2 separate regions of the Homo sapiens genome follow, and region 1 is linked to region 2. Evidence: fine-mapped expression QTL. Tissue or cell type: whole blood. Region 2 holds a variant in brackets; the other region holds the start of a gene. All regions are shown on one strand. Distances are between the middles of the regions.

The links. PIP is the estimated chance that this variant, and not a neighbour inherited with it, causes the effect.
Region 1: FGFR4 starts here. The variant in region 2 is fine-mapped to the expression of FGFR4 in whole blood (INTERVAL, PIP above 0.99).

Annotation. Positions count from the first base shown.
Region 1 is chr5:177,082,083-177,091,934 of GRCh38, reverse strand. It overlaps FGFR4 (fibroblast growth factor receptor 4), which reads right to left and starts at 5,020. Exons shown (of 18, transcript NM_213647.3): 1 at 4,858-5,020; 2 at 2,242-2,385; 3 at 1,282-1,545; 4 at 1,110-1,190; 5 at 831-997; 6 at 127-250. The coding sequence starts at 2,332. RefSeq lists an enhancer at 4,504-4,954, silencers at 4,650-5,109, 5,360-5,409 and a promoter at 4,920-5,139.
Region 2 is chr5:177,032,221-177,043,112 of GRCh38, reverse strand. ZNF346 (zinc finger protein 346) reads right to left here. Exons shown (of 7, transcript NM_012279.4): 2 at 1,884-1,987; 3 at 1,243-1,335. Among named protein-coding and RNA genes, the nearest start is that of ZNF346, 15 kb to the right of the region's middle. RefSeq lists a silencer at 4,374-4,423. The variant C/A (reference allele first, on the strand shown) is at 4,842.

The DNA.
Region 1 (9,852 bases), 49 kb before region 2:
CCCACCTGCTCACCAAGCTGCCTGACTCATCTGAGTCCATCCTGCCTGCCAGACTAGACCCCACCAAGAGGGCACAACTGAGCCCAAAATGGGTCAGGCCTCCCCTGTTCCCAGCCCCGCGCTCACCCAGCACATCTAGCAGGTAGTTATAGCGGATGCTGCCCACAGCGTTCTCTACCAGGCAGGTGTATGTGCCGCGGTCCGAGGGCACCACGCTCTCCATCACGAGACTCCAGTGCTGATGGCGCAGCTGCAGGCAGAGAGAGTGTCCGGGACCACCGGACCATGTCCACCAAGGGGGCCAGAGGACCAGGAGGCTAGATCCTCATCCTGCCCACAGGGCTCTTGTCAAGCTCTCTAGGCCCTGAGAACATCAGGCCCAGGCCAAGGACTATGGCACAAAGGAGTAGGCTCCCCAGGGCGCTTGAGCCTTGGGTTTGAGCCTTTGGAATTTTAGCTCTCCCTCTCCCTAGCTGTGCTACTTTGAGCCAACCCTTGCCTTCTCTGAGACTCAGTTGCCTCATGACAGCATGGAGCCGACCCTGCAGGGTCTCATCAAGACGATGAGATGCTAAGGCTTATGCAGACCAACCAGTCAGTGATTCTTCTCCCTTTACAAATGGAGTTGCTGAGGCTGAGAGGTTAAGTCACTTGCCAGAGAGTAGCAGAAGGGGAACCAGAGCTGCCCAGGTCCACAGTCCAGGGCTCCTTCCGGGGCCCCGCAATCGCTTCACTCATTCGATTGATTTATAGGTATGCTTGTAGGTATGAGGGGACTGATGAAGGAATGAAAATGGGGGAGCAGACGGTCTTGGAACCCAGAGACTCACCCGAATGCCTCCAATGCGGTTCTCCCCATGAAAGGCCTGTCCATCCTTAAGCCAGCGGATGGTGGGCGTGGGGTTGCCTGCAGCTGGACAGCGGAACTTGACGGTGTTCCCCGCAGGTACTGCATGCAGTTTCTTCTCCATGCGCTGGGGGTGTGTCCAGTAGGGTGCTGGAGGGCAGGGGAAGGCCCCTAGAATGACCGTGTGTTCCCACACAGGCCTCCTCTTCTCAGTGATCAGATGAGCAGCAGCGGGGACACAAGTCCTTGGAGACCTACTGACCTTGCTGGGGGTAACTGTGCCTATTCGAGGGGTCCCTATGGGACTTGGGGTCCTCATCATCGTTGCTGGAGGTCAAGGAGTCTACATCAGGGACAGAGGGAAGCATCTAAGGTCCAAGAGGGGCAGGTCTGTCTCCCCAGGCATCCCTTCACTCCCTGCTAGAGTCTCTTACCACCTGTAATCAAGGTGAGATTCTGCAGGACGATCATGGAGCCTCGTGCCAGGCAGAGGTAGCGGCCAGCATCCTCAGGTAGGAAGCTGGCAATCTCTAGGCGGCCCCTCCAGCCCCGTACACGGCCAGCAGGTGCCAGGCGACTGCCCTCCTTGTACCAGTGGCCACCACGCTCAGCCCGCCCACAGCACAGACGCACAGGCTGCCCAAGGGCTACTGTCAGCTCCTGCTCTTGCTGCTCCAGGCTGGGAGCCAGGCAGGGCTCTGTGGGCAGAGGGCAGAGGTCAGCAGACCCCGCAGCCCCATCTGAGGCAGCCTCCTGTGTACAAAGAACACACCGCACATGCAGGGCACAAGCACTTTGCAACGCATGCTGAAGGAGCCACCACTCCTTGACACCCACACAGCCACATGCTGCGGATGCCACACCCAGGGCAAATGCCACACTCTTGGGGCATGTCACACACACAGCATTTAGTGCACACGACAGTGGCCAAGACACACACACACACACACACGCATACACACACACACATACGGACACACACACACACAAGGCACATGCTGTTGGTGCCACATACAGGGTCATGCTGCACCGGGGCATATCACCCTCATAATGCTTATACCACACATGCTGCCTGGACCTCCTAGGTCACACACCCAGTGCACAGAACACACACACACACGCACACACACCCAGGTAAGGAGCTCACCACCAGCTCTGCAGCCCAGCTTAGGGCCCTGCGCCCTGCAAGGCCAGTCCTCTCTCGCAGACACAGTGATAGATGAATGCTTGCTGGAAGCCAGGCACTGACTGAGTCTCAGTGGTTGAGCCCTGCCCTGCCGCCACCTTCTCAGGGCCTGGGCAAGGATCCTTTCCAGCTTTGCTCAGCCCAGCAGCCCCCTCCTGGTGCCCACTCTTCCCACCCCTGCCACCCTCTCCCACCTCAGAAGCCATACCAAGCTCCACTTCCTCAGAGGCCTCCAGGGACAAGACTGGAGGCCCAGGCACACTCAGCAGGACCCCCAACAGGGCCAGCAGCAGCCGCATCTCCTTCTCACAGCTCTCAGGGACCCAAGCTGGACTTCCCACCAACTGCCTTCCTAAAATAGGGAGGGAAAAGAGCTCCTGCTACACGTGCACCTTTGTGGGGGCTTTTCCCTTATTTTGCAGATAAGGAAACTGAGACAGGAAGTGGCCAGCAGATGTGTCCAAGTCCCTGGCCAGGCTGTGGCAGTGCAGACTGGAACCAGCTCTGTAGTAGCCAGAGCCTAAGGCCTCCCCACGGTAGGTTGTGCAAGGGGTCTGGGCTGGGCTTCCTGCTCTCCCTGAGTCCTGCTGGGACCCTGGCACACGTTCACAGAAAGCAGTTTTGGGATTCTTTTTTGGAGGGAAGCAGAGAACGGAGACATATCTTCTGCATGCTCTCGGCACACATAATTTCTTTTTTGCTAAATAAATGAATTGATTGCAGAAGAGCCAAAAAAGAAAGTGAAAAATGACACAAGGTCAAACTTCAGCATCTGGATGGCATCTGATCCGATCCCCACTCCTTACAGCATTACTGACATTTCCAGGGCTGGGTGGTCACAACTGACAAGGCGGCCCCTTCCGTGGCAAGCAGGACCGCGACCCTGGATACCTCTGCTTGTTATGCACCAACTCCATCTGAGGCACACACGGTTTTGTAAAGAATACAGACCCTAATTTTCCATCTGCCAGAGCCAAGTTCAAATCCTGACTCTCACCAACTTGTAATTCCTTGTCTCTGTCTCTCTCTGGCTTACTATCCTCATAGGACTGTTTTGAGGATAAAAGAGAGAACGTGCGTCGGCACGCAGAGTGTTGGAATGTTCTCCTCCCTGTGCCCGGCCCTAGAACGGTTAACCTGTTGCCCTGGGTCTGCCCTTAGCCAGTCACCTCTGGTTCGGATGCTGTTACTGTCAGGCTGTGATGTACACACACCCCAGCTGGCTATCCTCTTCCAAATGCTACCAAGGACGCCTCTGTTCCCCAAAATAGAACACTCAGAACTGAGTCTCAGCTGGGACAAAGGAATCGGTGACCACTGCAGTCCTAGGGGCCTATGGGTGGCACTGGTGTCTCTGGATCTACCCTGCGTGGGAAGCCTATCACACCTCCTCCTCCTTGGTCACTGCCACTCCACTTCCAGTCCATCTGGCTTCCCCTGCCCCTTCTCAAGGCAGGTCATGGCCATCTCTTGCATGGGCCTCTGGAAACATCCTCTCCCTCGGCTCTTCAACCTTCATCTTCCAGCAGAGTTTTAAAAAACTACAAGTCGGCTGGGCGCGATGGTTCACACCTGTAATCCCAGCACTTTGGGAGGCCGAGGTGGGCGGATCACGAGGTCAGGAGATCGAGAACATCCTGGCTAACACGGTGAAACCCCGTCTCTACTAAAAATACAAAAAATTAGCCGGGCGCGGTGGCGGGCGCCTGTAGTCCCAGCTACTCGGGAGGCTGAGGCAGGAGAATGGCGCGAACCCGGGAGGCGGAGCTTGCAGTGAGCCGAGATCGCGCCACTGCACTCCAGCCTGGGCGACAGAGTGAGACTCCGTCTCAAAAAAAACAAAATAAAAAAATAAAATAAAATAAAAAAACAAACAAAAAAACCTGCAAGTCTGCCATGTCATGCCCCCCAGCTTGCAAGCCCTTAATGGCTACCTGTGCCCAGCAGGATCCAGCTCAACATCCTAGGGCTCCCTCTCTGCCGCTGCCTATCTCTTTGGTCACACCGTCTGCCCCTTCAGGAGCGCTGAAGCCATTGGCTTTCAAAACTGGGCACATGTGCTCTCTTGCCCATCCCTCTGTGCCCCTCATTGCTCTTCTCTACCTGACTCAGATACTGCTGTCTCTGGCCCACCTCAACTCTCGAATCCAGTCGGATCCTCCTTGGTAAAACTCCCTACCAAGCTCGGCTTGGCAGGGAGGGCAGCTCTTTGGGTACACAGCTTGGGCTGGGAGTGGGTGGGGAGGCCCGGGGAGTTTATTCCTACCCCAGGCTGCCCTGATATCAGAGTCCTTAGTCGAGTCACCCATGGCTGCTGACCGCTGACCGACCACCCCCCACGTGGGAATGGAGGGCCTGCCTTAGGCATCAGACAGTCCTGGGTTCTCCTTCAGCCTCCCGCACTCGCGCTGGAGGCCCCCGGGCACTAAGTGACTGAACTTTTCGGGGCCTCAGGTCCCTCATCTCTGCCGCCGGCGCGAAGACAGCCGCAGGGACAAGCGCGCTTGTCCTCCCCCACCCTTGCCGGGCCAGCCTGGGGGGAGGTGCGAATCAATGGGTCCCGAGGGTAGCTGCACAGGGCCAGCCTGCCCCCGCCTCGGTGGGCAATGAGTAACCAGCTCCGCGGCCGGGGTGCTCTTTGGACGGAGCGGGACAAAAGGCCCTGTGTGCACTGCGGGTTACTGATTTACCGCCCCCTCCACCCCCTGCCGCCCGGCGGACGCCCAGGTCCCCTGCGCCGGGAGGGGCAGTCCCCGTAGCCCCGCCGCCTCTCGCCCCCTGGCGGCTGGGAGCGCAGCCCGGGCCCACAAGGGTTCCGGCTCACCTCGAGCCTGCGTGACTCCGCGCCCAGCACAGGGTCCTGCTCACCTGGCTCCTCCTCACCTGGCTCCTCCGCCGCCTCACTCCCAGCTCCAGCCGGCCGCGACCCCTGCACGCGGCAGGGTCCGCAGACAGCCCGAGCGCTCCTCGGCCGGGAGCGAGGAATGTACCCGCGACGGCGGCGTGGCCGCGAGCGGCCCACCTCCTGTCCCACCCCGCCCCTCGGGCCCGCCCCCTCCTGCTCGGGCCCGCCCCTCCTTCCACGCCCCCCCCCCCCCCACCCGGGCCCGCCCACCTCCTGCCACACCCCCTCGGGCCCGCCCCGCCTAGACCAGCTCGAGCCGGAGAGAGGTGTGGCCAGGGGTGGCCAAGATCCCCGCCCACCTGGAGAGCCCCGCCCCCGACCCAGTCAGCCCACTCCCGGGACCCCGCCCCAGCCTATACACACACCCCTACACGCAACCCCCCTATACACACCCCATTCAGGCTCCGCCTCTTTCGCCCCACCCAGGCCCCAGGCCAGGCTCCTAAATTCTAGTCTACTACCCAGCTCTACTCCTTGCTTTTCACCCTTCAGGGAATGCCTGGCTCCCCTGTCTTCTGCGCAGTGCCGTGCAGCGGATAGGAGAACCCCTTCCTTCTGCTCCCTCATTTGTTCCCTGCGCAACCTGCGGAGTGATACTTACAACACAAATCTGACTGTGTCAGCCACTCCCTTAAATTTTCCTATAGATTCCCATAGCTCTTTATACATAGATTGCCATGACCCACGCCTCCTGGCTCCCACCCTGCTACTCCTGGGCAGTTTCACGTACCATTCTCTCTTCCTGGAATGGCCCTTGGTCTGGTTAATTTCATATTATTCTCAGCTCACTTCCTTCAGGAAGCCCTCTGGACTTGCAAGCTCCTCTTAGATGACGTCTCTACTGTGAGGATGGAGAAAGAAACAGGGTGAAGTGGTTCAGAGCACAGACTACAGGGCTGGACGTCATAGGCCCAGCTCTCAGCACCATCACACAAGGCCTCAGTCTTCACTGTCCTTTCAGTAAAACAGGCAAATGATAGTCTCACCCACAAGAGGTTGTTGCAAAAAGTAGACATGTTAGCAGTATGTGTAAGCCTGGCATGCAGCGCTTGCTTTGTAATACTAGCTGTAATTATTTAGGACCTGTTATTTCTTCAGCACGCTTGCCAGAATTGTAACTGAACAGTTAATTATGTAAATAGCTGTGGAATGGCCGGGCACAATGACGGGTGCCTGTAGTTCTAGTTACTAGGAGACTGAGGTAGGAGGACAGCTTGAATTCAGGAGTGTGAGGCCAGCCCTGGCAACATAGTTGCCCTGTCTCTATTTTTCAGTAGAGGAACTGTGTCCTCAGACCTCACCATTAGAGTTCAAGTGTCTGGCATACAGTAGGTGCTCCCAGATAGCTCCGTGCCCACCTGGCTCATGTTTGCCTCACCTGTAAGCACTTCTCTCCTGAGCATCTAGACTGTGGCCAAACCAGGAGGCCAGGCAGCCTCTGATCTCTGCCCATCCCTCACCTGAATCTCAAGCCTTCTCCTTCTCTTAAGGCACCTTGAGAGGAAGGGAAATGGGCTGGGTGCACCTGTGGTCCCAGCTACTTGGGAGGCTGAGGCCAGAGGATTGCTTGAGCCCAGGAAGTCGAGGCAGCAGTGAGCCGTGATCGCTCCACTGCACTGTAGCCTGGGCAACAGGCTATGGAGCGAGACCCTGTCTGAGGCTCAGGTCCTGGTTGTCCCCTCTAGCTAGTGTAGACCCTGTCTTAAGAAGCAACTTCCTTTCTCATTGTTACGCAGGCAAGTCTAGTTCTTTCCACCCTCACTCCCAAAGGGATAGTGGCATATCTTTGCATAACTGTAAGGCCCATTAAAGAGACTTAAAATTGTTTTTTTCTTTTTCTTCTTAAGCGAAAGAATGGTCTCCTCCCAAAGATAAATCAGAAAATAATTGAGGCCAGGCATGGTGGCTCATGCCTATAATCCCAGCACTGTGGGAGGCTGAATCGGGAGGATCGCTTGAACTCAGGAGTTCGAGGCCAGCCTGGGCAACATAGTGAGATCTCGTCTCTATTAAAAATATATATTAGGCTGGGCACGGTGGCTCACGCCTGTAATCTCAGCACTTTGGGAGGCTTAGGTGGGTGGATCACGAGGTCAGGAGTTCAAGACCAACCTGGCAAGATGGTGAAACCCCAGCTCTACTAAAAATACAAAAAAATTAGCCAGGCATGGTGGCATGTGCCTGTAATCTCAGCTACTAGGGAGGCTGAGGCAGAGAATTGCTTGAACCCGGGAGGTGGAGGTTGCAGTGAGCCGAGATCGTGCCATTGCACTCCAGACTGGGTGACAGAGTGAGACTTTGTCTCCAAAAAAAAAAAAAAATATATATATATATATATATGTGTGTGTGTGTGTGTGTGTGTGTGTCTGTGTGTGTCTGTGTGTCTGTGTGTATATACATACACACAGACACACCCACACATATATATGTATATTATAAATTTTTTTTTAATTGGTTATCTTTTAAAAACAATTTGTCCTGGTTCCCTTCTCTAGAGTCCTGCCTTGCTGGAGCTCCCAGGACAGATGAGGCTCCTGGCCCTGGGAGCTGCCTGCCCAGAGGGTACCTTGCCAGACCTCCCGGACTGCTGGAGGGGTTCAGCTCCCTGCCTCTGGCCCTCTGCTGGCTCCCCTTGTGAATGTGGTTGTGGGGGGAGACAGGGTGAGCCGCCAGCTGGAGCTGGACCCCACATGGCTTTCATTCACCTTCCCGGGCATTTCCTGAGTTTACCAGAGCCAAAGACAAACTAAAAGTTTTCATAGCTCAGGTCTTGCAACCTCCTTGTCTCCTGAGATGCGCAAATCCCTCAGATTTGCAACCCTCTGATGTCCCTAGGATATGTTCCCCATATCCCTTGTCTGCCTCCTCTCCCCGCACTCATAACCTTTCACACTGACCCTCCACAGAGGCTGATGCTCCCTCACAAAGTCATTCACTCATTCACTCATTCATCTGAATGATTATTTATTGAAGGTTCATTATGTGGCATCCACTGTTTTAAATCCTGGGGATAAAGCCCCGAATTGGACTCTTTTTCTTTTCTTTTCTTTGGGAGACAGTGTCTTGCTCTGTTGTCCAGGCTGGAGTGCAGTGGTGTGATCTTAGTTCACTGCAAGCTCTGCCTCCTGGGTTCAAGTGATTCTCCTGCCTCAGGCTCCTGAGTAGCTGGGATTACAAATGTGCACTACTACACCTGGCTAATTTTTATATTTTTAGTAGAGACAAGGTTTCACCATATTGACCAGGCTAGTCTCAAACTCCTGACCTCAAGTTATCTGCCCATGTCAGCCTCCTCAAATGCTGGGATTACAGATGTGAGCCACCTCACCTGGCCTGGACCCTACTTCTACCCTTCAAGGGGCTGCTGACATTGTAGTGGGGACAGACAGATAAGTAATCAGTTACAGCCTGGGAGATAAGCTGAGCCAGTCAGGGAGAGCACCTAAGCCTTTCACACTGTCTCACTCTCTTGCTGACACGCAATCTTTCACCAGTCACATTTGCAGTCTCTTTCTCAAAGACATTCAGACACGACTGGGCACAGTGGCTCACTCCTGTAATCCCAGCACTTTGGGAGTCTGAGGTGGGCGGATCACTTGAGGTCAGGAGTTCGAGACCACCCTGGCCAACATGGTAAAACCCCATCTCTACTAAAAATACAAAAATTGGCCAGGCATGGTGGCACACGCTTGTAATCCCAGCTACTGGGGTGGCTGAGGCAGGAGAATCACTTGAACCTGGGAGGCAGATGTTGCATTGAACCAAGATCACGCACTGCACTCTAGCCTGGGAAACAGAGCAAGACCCTGTCTCAAAAAAAAAAAAAAATACATTCAGACACACACACACACACACACACACACTCTCTCTCTCTCTCTCTCTCGCTTAGCAGAGGCAAGAGCCTGTCACCCTAAGATCCTGCTGTTAACCTGCCTCTGCCTCAGTTTCCCCACCCAGAAAGCCGTCATGCTCCAGCTTCCTCTTCTTCCTTTTTTTTTTTTTTTTTTTGTGGAGATGGAGCCTCGCTCTATTGCCCAGGCTGGAGTGCAGTGGCGTGATCTTGGCTCACTGCAACCTCCGCCTCCCAGGCTCAAGCAATTCTCCTGCCTCTCCTGCCTCAGCCTTCCTAGTAGCCGGGACTACAGGCGCCTGCCACCACACCCAGCTAATTTTTGTATTTTTGTAGAGACGGGGTTTCACCATGTTGGCCAGGCTGGTCTCGATCTCCTGACCTCAGGTGATCCACCCGTCTCGGCCTCCCAAAGTGCTGGCATTACAGGCGTGAGCAACGGCTCCCGGCTGCTCCAGCTTCTTTCTTCCTAGGAGTGTTGGGGGAAATGAACGTGTTCCTGTTCCTGAGCTCGTGACTCTTCAGCTCCCGTTACATGCCAGGCATCATGCTGGGTGTTGTACATGGGTTATATCCTTTAATTCTTCCACCAAGCCAAATGGCATAGGAATCCTTAGCTCTGATTTGTAGGTGAAGAAACAAGCTCAGGGAGATGGAATTACTTATTTGAGGTCATCTAGCAAGTGAATTGCAGAACTCGAACCCCTGTCTTCTGGGGCAAAGATGGAGAGCTCGGGATAACTCTCCAGAGTGGGATCATTGATGCTACTGCATCAGATGCTTTCTGTCTCCATCCTTAACTGTGGCCCGGGAAGGTGCAGATTCACCTGAAGGTGAGTGTGTTGGGGAGGGAGGTGTGGGGGCTGGGACTGAGCACTGCACTCCTTGACCTTTTAGCCAGCAGTCCTGAGGAGACACCAGGCCCAGGCAGGGGTTTGCAGACTCTGTGCCTCTGGAATGCTGGGCTGGGCCAGGAGGGTCTCCTGAGGCCAGGTCCTACCCCCCACCTGCCTGGGGGCAGAGTCATCGGGGGGTAGAGGGCAGACGTTGCCTGGTGCCAACGA
Region 2 (10,892 bases):
TGGGAGGCTGAGGCAGGCAGATCACTTGAGATCAGAGGTTTGAGACCAGCCTGGCCAACCTGGTGAAACCCTATCTCTACTAAAAATACAAAAATTAGCTGGGTGTGGTGGCGCGTGCCTGTAGTCCCAGCTACTTCAGAGGCTGAGGCAGGGGAATCGCCTGAACCCAGGAGGTGGAGGTTGCAGTGAGCTGAGATCGTGCCACTGCACTCCAGTTAGCCAGGCGTGGTGGTGTGTGCCTGTAGTCCTAGCTACTTGGGAGGTTGAAGTGGGAGGATCACTTGAGCTTGGGAGGTTGAGGCTGCAGTGAGCCGTGACTGCACCACTGCACTCCAGCCTGGGTAACAGAGCCAGGTCCTGTCTCACAAATAGACAGATAGAGAAATAGAAAGGAGGGAAACCAGGGATAAATAAATAAATAATAAGGGAAACCAGGGGATGAGTCCAGTAAATTTTGAGAAGAGATAAACAAGGACCTTCCTGACCTGTGGCTACTATAATAGGAGGTAGCAGTCTATAGAGTAAACTCTTATTTATTGAGCATCTACTAGGAATTGAAATTTTACCTCACAATACCCTTAAGAAGTAGGCATTATCTCTACTTTATGGGGGAAGTTCACAGAGGTTAAGTGACTTGGCCAAACTCACCCGATCAGTAAGACACACAGCCAGCTTTGAGCCCTAGTCTGCTTAACTTCTCTTCCCATGATGAGATGGTACTCCTGAGGGATTGGGGGTTGCTTCAGCATAATGCTCATATTATTTCTGAGCCAAAAAGCACATGTGATCACCTCTCAATCACAGCAGACATTTGGAAAGGTGTTCCTTCTGCTTATTTATGCAAAACATTCAAGTGCTGAACTTAGTTCTTTTCCTTGGCCCTCAAGAAAGCAAGCAGCCTGGCTTCTTTCCATTTTCTCTTGTCTTGCTCTAACAAACCACTAGGCGGTAATATGTAATACCAGCTCCATTACTGAGTCCCTACTATGTGCCAGGCTCTGAATTGGGTGCTTTTTATAAATCTGCCCTCAATTTTAGTTCTAAAAAATCCTGAAAGGTAGTTGATATTACCATCCTCATTTTTATAGAGGAAGAAATCAAGGCTTTGTGAAGTAATAGACTTGCCCGAGTCACACAACAGGGCCAGGATTTGAAGCCAAGACAGTCTGACTTGTTCACCACACCAACCTGCTGGCTGGCTTCATCATGAAGCAAGTGGGCTCAATATGGCAGCTGTATTACCTGATCTGAGTCTAGCTTCTTCGTTTCCCCCTTTAATGTCTCCATTCCATGGATTGCTAGGTATCTCTTCACTTTGTTGGCATGTTTTTTGCTCTGCAAAAACCCAGGAGAAAGATCAAAGATAGCCAAATGCTACTTCATACTTAAGGCACTCAAAAACACTTATGAGATTTTCATCTGATTCATCCTCACAAAAAGTTTTGAGGAGGAGGTGAGGGAAGTTTGAGTTCCTGCTCTGTGCAAGGCATTTTACAGCTACCAAATTTAATCTTCACAATCTATGAGAAAATTATGACCATTTCTATTTTATGGATGAGGAAACTACATCTAAAAATGATGAAGTTTCTTGCTCAAGATGAGTAGCAGAGTTTTGATTTAAAGTCAGATCTATTTAAAGCCAAAGCTCATACTTTATGCTATGCCAAGCTGCAAGGGAAGATACACATATAATGATCCTGATTTGGATGGGGGAGATGAGACTCAAGGAGATTAAGTCAATCTTCAAGTCACAAGCCAACATGCATGGAGGCAACATCTGGGTGGCTAAGCAGCAATTACACTTCACCATGCAAGCCAGAGAGAATTAGTGGTTTGGCACCAGGTCTGAAAAGAAACGCAGTTCTAAAAGTATGATGGCATACCTGGTAATGTGCCAGCTTCTGGGACTCAGAAATAAGCAAGGCGCAGCAAACCTTACACTGGGTGTTGGTGAAGAGACATTGGTTCTTCTGGATCATGTGCTCCACTATAGAGGGGAAAACAAGAAATCATTGAGTTGACAAACACTACCTCAACAGCACTGCCTTTGAACCCTGCCTCAAACACAGGCACTGAATGATGGGATGCCATACTAGGACACTGGCAGACCTCAGCCAGCCTTTCCTACTGCCACCGTGACTCATGCTGTGTTCTCACACCACCTACACTATTACTTATTTTATAATTTTATGTATGCCAACTTTCTTTACTTAGGAACTTCTTTTAAAAAGGAATCTTTAGATCATAAACTTAAGCAGATACCAATAAAAATAAATATGATAAAAATGAGGCTTGGAGCATTCCCCAGGAAGAAGAGAACAGCAACTGTGCTGAGAGGTTTTAAGATATGGTAGCACCCAACTGAAACTTCTTCCCAGATAGAATCAGGAGGACTGAAAGACTCGAAAAAGGAATACTTTTCTCATTGTTCTTGATCTGACTTTGAAACATTTAAAATCACATAACAGGGTGGGGCGTGGTGGCTCACGCCTGTAATCCTAGCACTTTGGGAGGCCGAGGTGGGCAGATCACCTGAGATCAGGAGTTCGAGACCAGCCTGGCCAACATGGTGAAACCCTGTCTCTACTAAAAATACAAAAATTAGCCAGGTGTGGTGGCAGGCACCTATAATCCCAGCTACTCGGGAGGCTGAGGCAGGAGAATTGTTTGAACCCAGGAGGCAGAGGTTGTAGTGAGCTGAGGTTGTGCCACTAACTCCAACTTGGGTGACAGAGCTAGACTCTGTCTCTAAATAAATAAATAAAATAAAATCACATAACGTATTATATAAGTGCCACACTATATGAAACATGGTATTAACCTGTGCTTAAATTATTGTGCCTGGAGAACAGTCTTACCTTTTTGAGAAGAGAAGAGGAGGTAAAATCTCTCCCAAGGCATAAGTTCATTTTTGTTTGTTTTTTTTTTTTTTGAGAGGGAGTCTCGCTCTGTCACCCAGGCTGGAGTGCAGTGGCATGATGTCGGCTCACTGCAAGCTCCGCCTCCCAAGTTCACACCATTCTCCTGCCTCAGCCTCCCGAGTAGTTGGGATTACAGGCACCCACCACCACGCCCAACTAATTTTTTTGTATTTTTAGTAGAGACGGGGTTTCATCGTGTTAGCCAGGATGGTCTCGATCTCCTGACCTCGTGATCCACCCACCTTGGCCTTCCAAAGTGCTGGGATTACAGGCGTGAGCCACCGCGCCCGGCCAAGGCATGAGTTCTATCATGGCGCTGGCAATGTGAGGCAGAGGCAGAGGCAGAGTCTAAAACTGGGAGAGGAGGGCAGGCCCACATTTTTAATCTCCTGGTCTCAGCCAAAAAGTGGTCAAGGCTAGGCACAGTGGCTCACACCTGTAATCCCAGCATTTTGGGAGGCTGAGGTGGGAGGATGGGTTGAGCCCAGGAGTTTGAGACCAGCCTGGGCAAGATGGTGAGACTCTGTCTCTACATAGAAACAAACACACCAACAAACCAAAAACTAGCCGGGGGTGGTGGCACATGCCTGTGGTTCCAGCTTCATGGGAGGCTAAGGCTGAGACAGAGACAGAAGGATTGCTTGAGCTCAGGAGGTCAAGGCTATGGCAAGCCATGTTAGTGCCACTGTACTCCAGCCTGGATAACAGAGCAAGCCCCTGTCTTAAAAAAAAAAAAGTCGATGCCCTGGAAGAGGTTCTTGGTGGGGAGCTTTTAAGATGTCTCTCCTTAATCCACAAAATCTAAAGCTTACCTATGTCAGCCCTTTTAGGCAGAAGGGCTGTATTTCTGCCCCTAATGATCTCTTTTTATTTCTGCATTTTTCTTTTAAATGGTAAATTTTTGTGAAAGACCTTGCCTGTCTTAGCTATGCTCTGAAAAACCAAGAGAAATGACTCTATAAACAAAATTGGCCCAGAACTTTTAAAAGAGGGTCAGAGGTGGCCAGGCACGATTGGTAATGCCTGTAATCTTAGCACTTTGGGAGGCCAAGGTGGGTGGATCATCTGAGGTCAGGAGTTTGAGACCAGCCTGGCCAACATGGTAAAACCCCATCTCTACTAAAAATACAAAACTAGCCGGGTGTGGTGAAGCATGCCTGTAATCCCTGCTACTTGGGAGACAGAGGCAGGACAATCACTTGAACCTGGGAGGCAGAGGTTGCAGTGAGCCGAGATTGTGCCATTGCACTCCAGCCTGAGCAACAGCAAAACTCGGACACACACACACACACACACACACACACACACACACACAAGAAGAAGAAGAAAAAAGAAGAAAAAAAAGAGGGTCAGAGGCTTCTCACAATAAGAAACCCACATGGGGAAGGTAATACCCAGGGGTCAGAGTTCAGTCATCACTTCCTCACCTGGAGATTGTGGATTTTGTTTTGTTCAAGAGATGAGGTTTCAAGCATATTCAGAATCAGACTCCCAAACCCACAGCAAGGGCAGGTAAGCACCTGCTAAATAAATGTACCTCTCTGCTGGAATGCACTCTCTGGCCTTAGAGAGTACATTCACATAGTCCACACAAATATATTTATAATACGTGCTTTGTGTCAACACTGCACTTAGTGCTGGGGGCCATACCAACAAAGAAGATGGGGTATAAAGTAAAAAATAAGCAAGACAATGACAGAGAATTAGAAATGCTATGAAAACAAGCAGAGTACGGGGTAGAGAATGACGGGGCAGGAGAGTTAGTAAAGACCATCACAGGGCCGGTTGTGGTGGCTCACACCTATAATCCCAGAAACTCAACAGGCTGAGGCAAGAGGATTGCTTCAGCCCAGAAGTTTCAGACTGTCCTGGGCAACACAGGGAGAGCCACATCTCTACAAAAATTAAAAAACACACACA[C/A]ACAAAAAAAAAAAACGTAGTTGGGCATGGTGGCGCATGCCTGTAGTCTTAGCTATTCAGGAGGCTGAGGTGGGAGAATCCCTTGAGCCTAGAAGTTTGAAGCTTCAGTGAGCCGTGAATGTGCCACTGCACTCCAGCCTAGGCAACAGAGAAAGACTTTGACTCTGAAAATTTAAAAAAAAAAAAAAAAATCATCATGGGGAAGTGTCAGCCACAAGGCTTACAGGAAAAGAGTGTTCCAACCTGAAACAGTATTAAGTCTGTGAGGCAGGGATGAGTTTGGCATATTCCATGTTCAAAGAATGGAGAGAAGCCCACTATGCCTGGAATATGGTGAATGAGAGAAGAATGGTAGGAAATTAAGTTGGAGAGACAGCATGAGGCCTAGTAGATGATGTTGAATGAATATAAGGCTCCATAAGCCACAGTATGAACTACGGATTTTATTGTTAGTGTAATGAGAGGTGACAAGATCTGGTTTGCCCTTGAAAAGATTACTCTGACAGTTGTTGTCAACAGACTGTATGGGGACAAGAATGGAAGCAGAAAGAACAAGGAGAAGGCTGCTGTAGTCTTCAGAGAATAGATGATGGAAGCTTGGACTAGGCAGGTTGTCAGTGGAGATGGAGAAAAGTGAATGAATTTGGAATTATGTTCCGGCAATAGGTTTGACATCTGATTTCTTAGACTGGATGTGGGGGTGGGAGTGAAGGAAGGAAAGGAGTCAAGGATAACTCCTAGGTTTTGAACTTGAACAAGTGAATAGATTAGAACTAGGGGAAGATAGCCTTGGAGGAAAAATTAAAGACTTTTCGTTATGTGAGTGTGAGTAGTCTATCAGATATATAGGTGGAGATGAGTTGGAGATTCAGATCTGTCAGTCACTTGAAGCTCAAGGGGGAGGTCAGAGCTGGAGATATAAATGGGGAATCATTGGTATATCAATCATATTGAACACTGTGGGGCTGGAAGAGATTGCCTAGCGTAGATGAAGAAGGAAAGAGGTTCAGAGACTGAGCCTTGGGACCCTCCCAATTTTGAAGTCAGGCAGAGGAAGCGAAGTTGAATATAAAACAAAGTGAGTACAGGGTGGAACTTCTGGCCAAGGCAGAGTGAGGAGATCTCCTGCAGAAGCAACAATAAAACAGGACAAAACTGACAAAACCGGACAAAACTGACAAAACCAACCACTTCAGCACTCTGGAAGTTAACCAAAGGGACTTAACAATCCGAGAGCAATTTTGTGCTTGCAAAACTGCTGAACTTCAGGTAAGAACAGTAGGAATCAGCGGCTTTTTTTTTTCCCCAGATGGGGAAAAACAAACAAACAAACAAAACCTCAGGGTTTCCCAGGCTGCAGTGCCCACACTGGAGTGCAGTGGCATAATGTCAGCTCACTGTAGCCTCAATTTCCCAGGCTCAGGTGAGGCTGCTCTCAGCCCTTCCTGCAATCGGTGTAGAAACTCTGGCAAGAAGGTGCTAGCCATGAAAACAAATAGCTTCCATACAGAAGGAAGGAAATCACTTGATTTCCTTTACATGTAGCAATATTGTTGATGGAAATGATGATCTCCAAGGCAGTAAGCAGGAAGAGTGAAAGGCTTCACTGGCCGGAGGTGTGCTCATGGTTGGGGCAAGTGTGTTCCTGGCTGAGACTGTGTGACAGCGGAGACCTGAGAGGGCCCAAGTTAGCCACATACTCATGGCCACCCTGAGGCTGCGTACACACACAAAAGAGATGCAAAAGGACCTCGTGGGAAGGGTAGATCTCAAAATGACTTGAACTTTGATTATGCTTCCCTACCAACACACAGATCCAACAATACAAAATCAAGGGCTTATAGGCTCCAGGTGTTTAGAACAAGATCTTGTTGAATCCCTAGTTAATCTGACCACTAAGCAACATAAACACATTAAAGTAGAAATTATAAAAGGGAACCAAATTGGGAATGTTTGCTTTTAAAGCCTTTGCCCACCATGTAAGCAGTCTGACTGCTCTGAGGCCACCAAGCTGTGAGAAACCCCAGACTATTTCATGCATCAAGACCACATGGAGAGTTCCTGACACCACATGAAAAGAGAGATGTCTGGCCAGCCCCCAGAGGCTCCACCCCGCTGTTGTTTCAGCTCTAGCTCCCAGATGCTCCATTTCCCTGCTGTTTCAACTTGAGCCACCATCTGACTGCAACTGCATAAGAGACCCTGAATCAGAACTATCCAGCCAAGCCTTTCCCAAATTCCTGGCCCACAAAAACTGAGAGGTTTATGAGGTTGGAGGAAGCTAAGGCCCACAGAGGGAAAAAAAAAAAAAACTTGGATAAAATTGTCAATTAGGCCGGGTGCGGTAGCTCACGCCTGTAATACCAGCACTTTGGGAGGCAGAGGCGGGCGGATCACGAGGCCAGGAGTTCAAGACCAGCCTGGCCAACATAGTGAAACCCTGTCTCTACTAAAAATACAAAAAAGTTTAGCCCCAGGGCATGGTGGCAGGTGCCTGTGTCCCAGCTACTTGGGAGGCTGAGGCAGGAGAATCGATTGAACCCAGGAGGCGGAGGTTGCAGTGAGCCGAGATCATGCCACTGCACTCCAGCCTGCGCGACACAGTGAAACTGTCTCAAAAAAAAAAAAAAAAAAAAAAGTCAATTAGCCGGGTGTGATGGTAAGGCACTTGTAATTCCAGTTACTCGGGAGGCTGAGACAGGAGAACTGCTTGAACCCGGGAGGCGGAGGCTGCAGTCAGCCAAGATTGCGCCATTGCACTCCAGCCTGGGCAACAGGAGTAAAACTCTGTCTCAAAAAAAAAAAAAAATTGTCAAAATTCTGAGATGGCAGCCTGACTACACATCCTTTTTGCCATGATATCTGCACACAACTTTAATCCAACTACCAACTATCTCTCCAGGGTGCAAAAGATTTGATATGGAAAATGAGGTGCTTTTCATTCATTCACTGGAGAGGCAGGGCGTGGTGGCTCAGCCTGTAATCCCAACACTTGGGAAGGCCAAGGCAGGTAGATTGCTTGAGGCCAGGAGTTTGAGACCAGCCTCGCCAACATGGCAAACCCCCGTCTCCACCAAAAATAAAAAAATTAGGCAGGCATGGTGCTATGTGCCTATAATCCCAGCTACTTGGGAGGCTGAGGCACAAGAATCACTTGAACCCAGGAGGTGGAGGTTGCAGTGAGCCAAGATCGTGCCACTACACTTGAGCCTGGGCGACAGAGTAAGACTCCATCTCAAAAAAAAAAAAGAAAAGAAAAGAAAAGAAAAAGAAAATCACTAGAGAGGCTGAAAGTATGATACTAGGTTGGGCCTCCAGAAACATCTCCAGGAATAATGCATACATGTTCCAATAGGTGACCTACAGTCTCTGAGGCTCCTTCACAGCTCTGCTGGAAGCAAGATGCTTTGACTGTAACAACTTCTCTCTCAACCTATGAAGCTGGACAACGGATGCTGGAAAACTGATGTAGTTCCATGACCTTTTTTGACAGCAACAATAGCCAAGAGGCACAGAAGTATGGTCTTTACTGCATTTCTGCATTCTACATCCTATGAGATGTTACGTATTCACAGGATTTAATTTATATCCACATGATAGCCAAGTAAAAGATGTATGGGGCAGAGGCTGAGAGATGCCATCTAGAGTATGAAGCACAGGGCTGCTTTTCACAGGGTCGATGAAGTAGGAACACAGAGAACTTTTGTGGGACAGCAAGATAATTAATAAACTTAACAAATTTAAGGGTTGGGTGTGATGGTTCATGCCTATAATCCCAGCACTTTGGGAGGCTGAGGTGGAAGGACCGCTTGAGCCCAGGAGTTCAAGAACCAGCCTGGGCAACATAGTGGGACCCTGTCTTTACAAAAAACCAAAAAAGATTAGCTGAGTGTCGTGGTGCACACCTACAGTCCCAGCTACTTGGTAGGCTGAGGTGGGAGGATCGTTTGAACTTGAGCCCAGGAGGTCAAGGCTGCAGTGAAGTGAGCTGTGATCACACCACTGCACTTCAGCCTCCATCCTGGGTGACACTGCAAGACCTTGTCTCAAAATTAAAAAAAAAAAAAAGAAAGAAAGGAAATTTAAGCCAGGTGTGGTAGCCTGCATGCACTTGTAGTCCCAGCTATTCAGGAGGCTGAGGTGGGAGGATCATTTGAGCCAGGAGTTCGAGACCAGCTTAGACAACATGGTGAAACCCCATCTCTATAAAAAACTACAAAAAATTAGCTGGGTATGGTGGTGCACACTTGTTATCCCTGCTACTCAAGTGGCTGACGTGGGAGGATCACCTGAGTTTGGGAGCTCGAGGCTACAATGAGCCAGGATTGCACTGCTATGCTCCAGCCTTGGTGAGGGAGTGAGACCCTGTCTCAAAAATGACTTGCTATTCCTTAGGCCTACATGTGACCTTAGAATCTACAATTGAGCTCTGTATAAATTCATCAACTGGGCCAGGTGCGGTGGCTCACGCCTGTAATCCTAGCACTTTGGAAGGTCGAGGTGGGTGGATCACGAGGTCAGGAGATCGAGACCATCCTGGCTAACATGGTGAAACCCCATCTCTACTAAAAATACAAAAAATTAGCCATGTGTGGTGGCGGGTGCCTGTAGTCCCAGCCACTCAGGAGGCTGAGGCAGGAGAACGGCGTGAACCCAGGAGGCGGAGCTTGCAGTGAGCAGAGATCATGCCACTGCACTCCAGCCTGGGCTACAGAGTGAGACTCCATCTCAAAACAAAACAAAAACAAAAACAAAACAAAACAAAACAAAAAAATTCGTCAACTGACTGAAGGTGATCCTTAGGAAGATGAAACCTATTTACTACCCAGCTTATTAGGAGGCAAAGGGTTTTTAGGTATAGCTATAGTCAGAAAGCAGAAAATAAAAGATCCTAGGGCTGGGTCAGTGGCCCACGCCTGTAATCTGACACTCTGGGAGACTGAGGCTAGAGGATTGCTTGATGCCAGGAGTTTGAGACCAACACAGGCAGCAAAGTGAGACCTCATCTTTACAAAAAAAATTAAAAAATTATCCAGGTGTGGTGGCACACGCCTGTAGTGCTGGTTACTAGGGAAGCTGACATGGGGGAAATCACTTGAGTCTAGCAGTTCGAGGCTCTGGTGAGCCATAATTGCGCCACTGCACTTCAGCTGGGTGACAGAGCAAGATCCCCCATCTCAAAAGCAAAAACCCCTCAAACAATCATAGGAAAGGGAGGTTGGGTATAATCTACCCATGGATGAGAATGGTTAGACAATGTAGTATTTTAATGGGCAGTATGGCCTAAAAGAATGAACAAGACGGTCCTATTAAGTCTACTTAGCACTGGTACTTCCATTTTGTGAGTCCATACTGTGTTTTTGTTTTTAATTTAATTTTTTAGAGTCAGAGTCTCATTATGTTGCCTAGGCTGAATTCAGACTCCTGGCCTCAAGTGATCCTTCTGCATCAGCCTCTCAAGCAGCTGGGACTACAGGTGTGGGCCACCATGCCTGGCCAAATCCATACTGCTGATGGTCTCAAGAAGCTCAAATTTCTATCCAATGAAAAGGGCATGAAGAGGCCGGGCATGGTGGCTCACACCTGTAATGTCAGCATTTTGGGAGGCCGAGGCGGGCGGATCACCTGAGGTCAGGAGTTTGAGACCAGGCTGGCCAACGTGGTAAAACCCCATCTCTATTAAAAAGTGCAAAAATTAGCCAGGTGTGGTAGAGGGCTGGTAATCCCAGCTAACTCAGCAGGCTGAGGCAGGAGAATCGCTTGAACCCAGGAGGTGGAGGTTGCAGTGAACTGAGATTGTGCCATTGCACTCCAGCCTGGGTGACAAGGGCGAAACTCTGTCTCAAAAAAAAAAAGCTGCGTGCAGTGGCTCATGCTTGTAATCCCAGCATGCCAAGACTGCGCCACTGCACTCTAGCCTGGTGACAGAGCAAGACTCTGTCTAAAAACAAAAACAAAAACAAAAAAAGGCTGGGTGCAGTGGCTCACGCCTGTAATCCCAGCACTTTAGGAGGCCAAGGTGGGTGGATTACCTGAGGTCAGGAGGTCAAA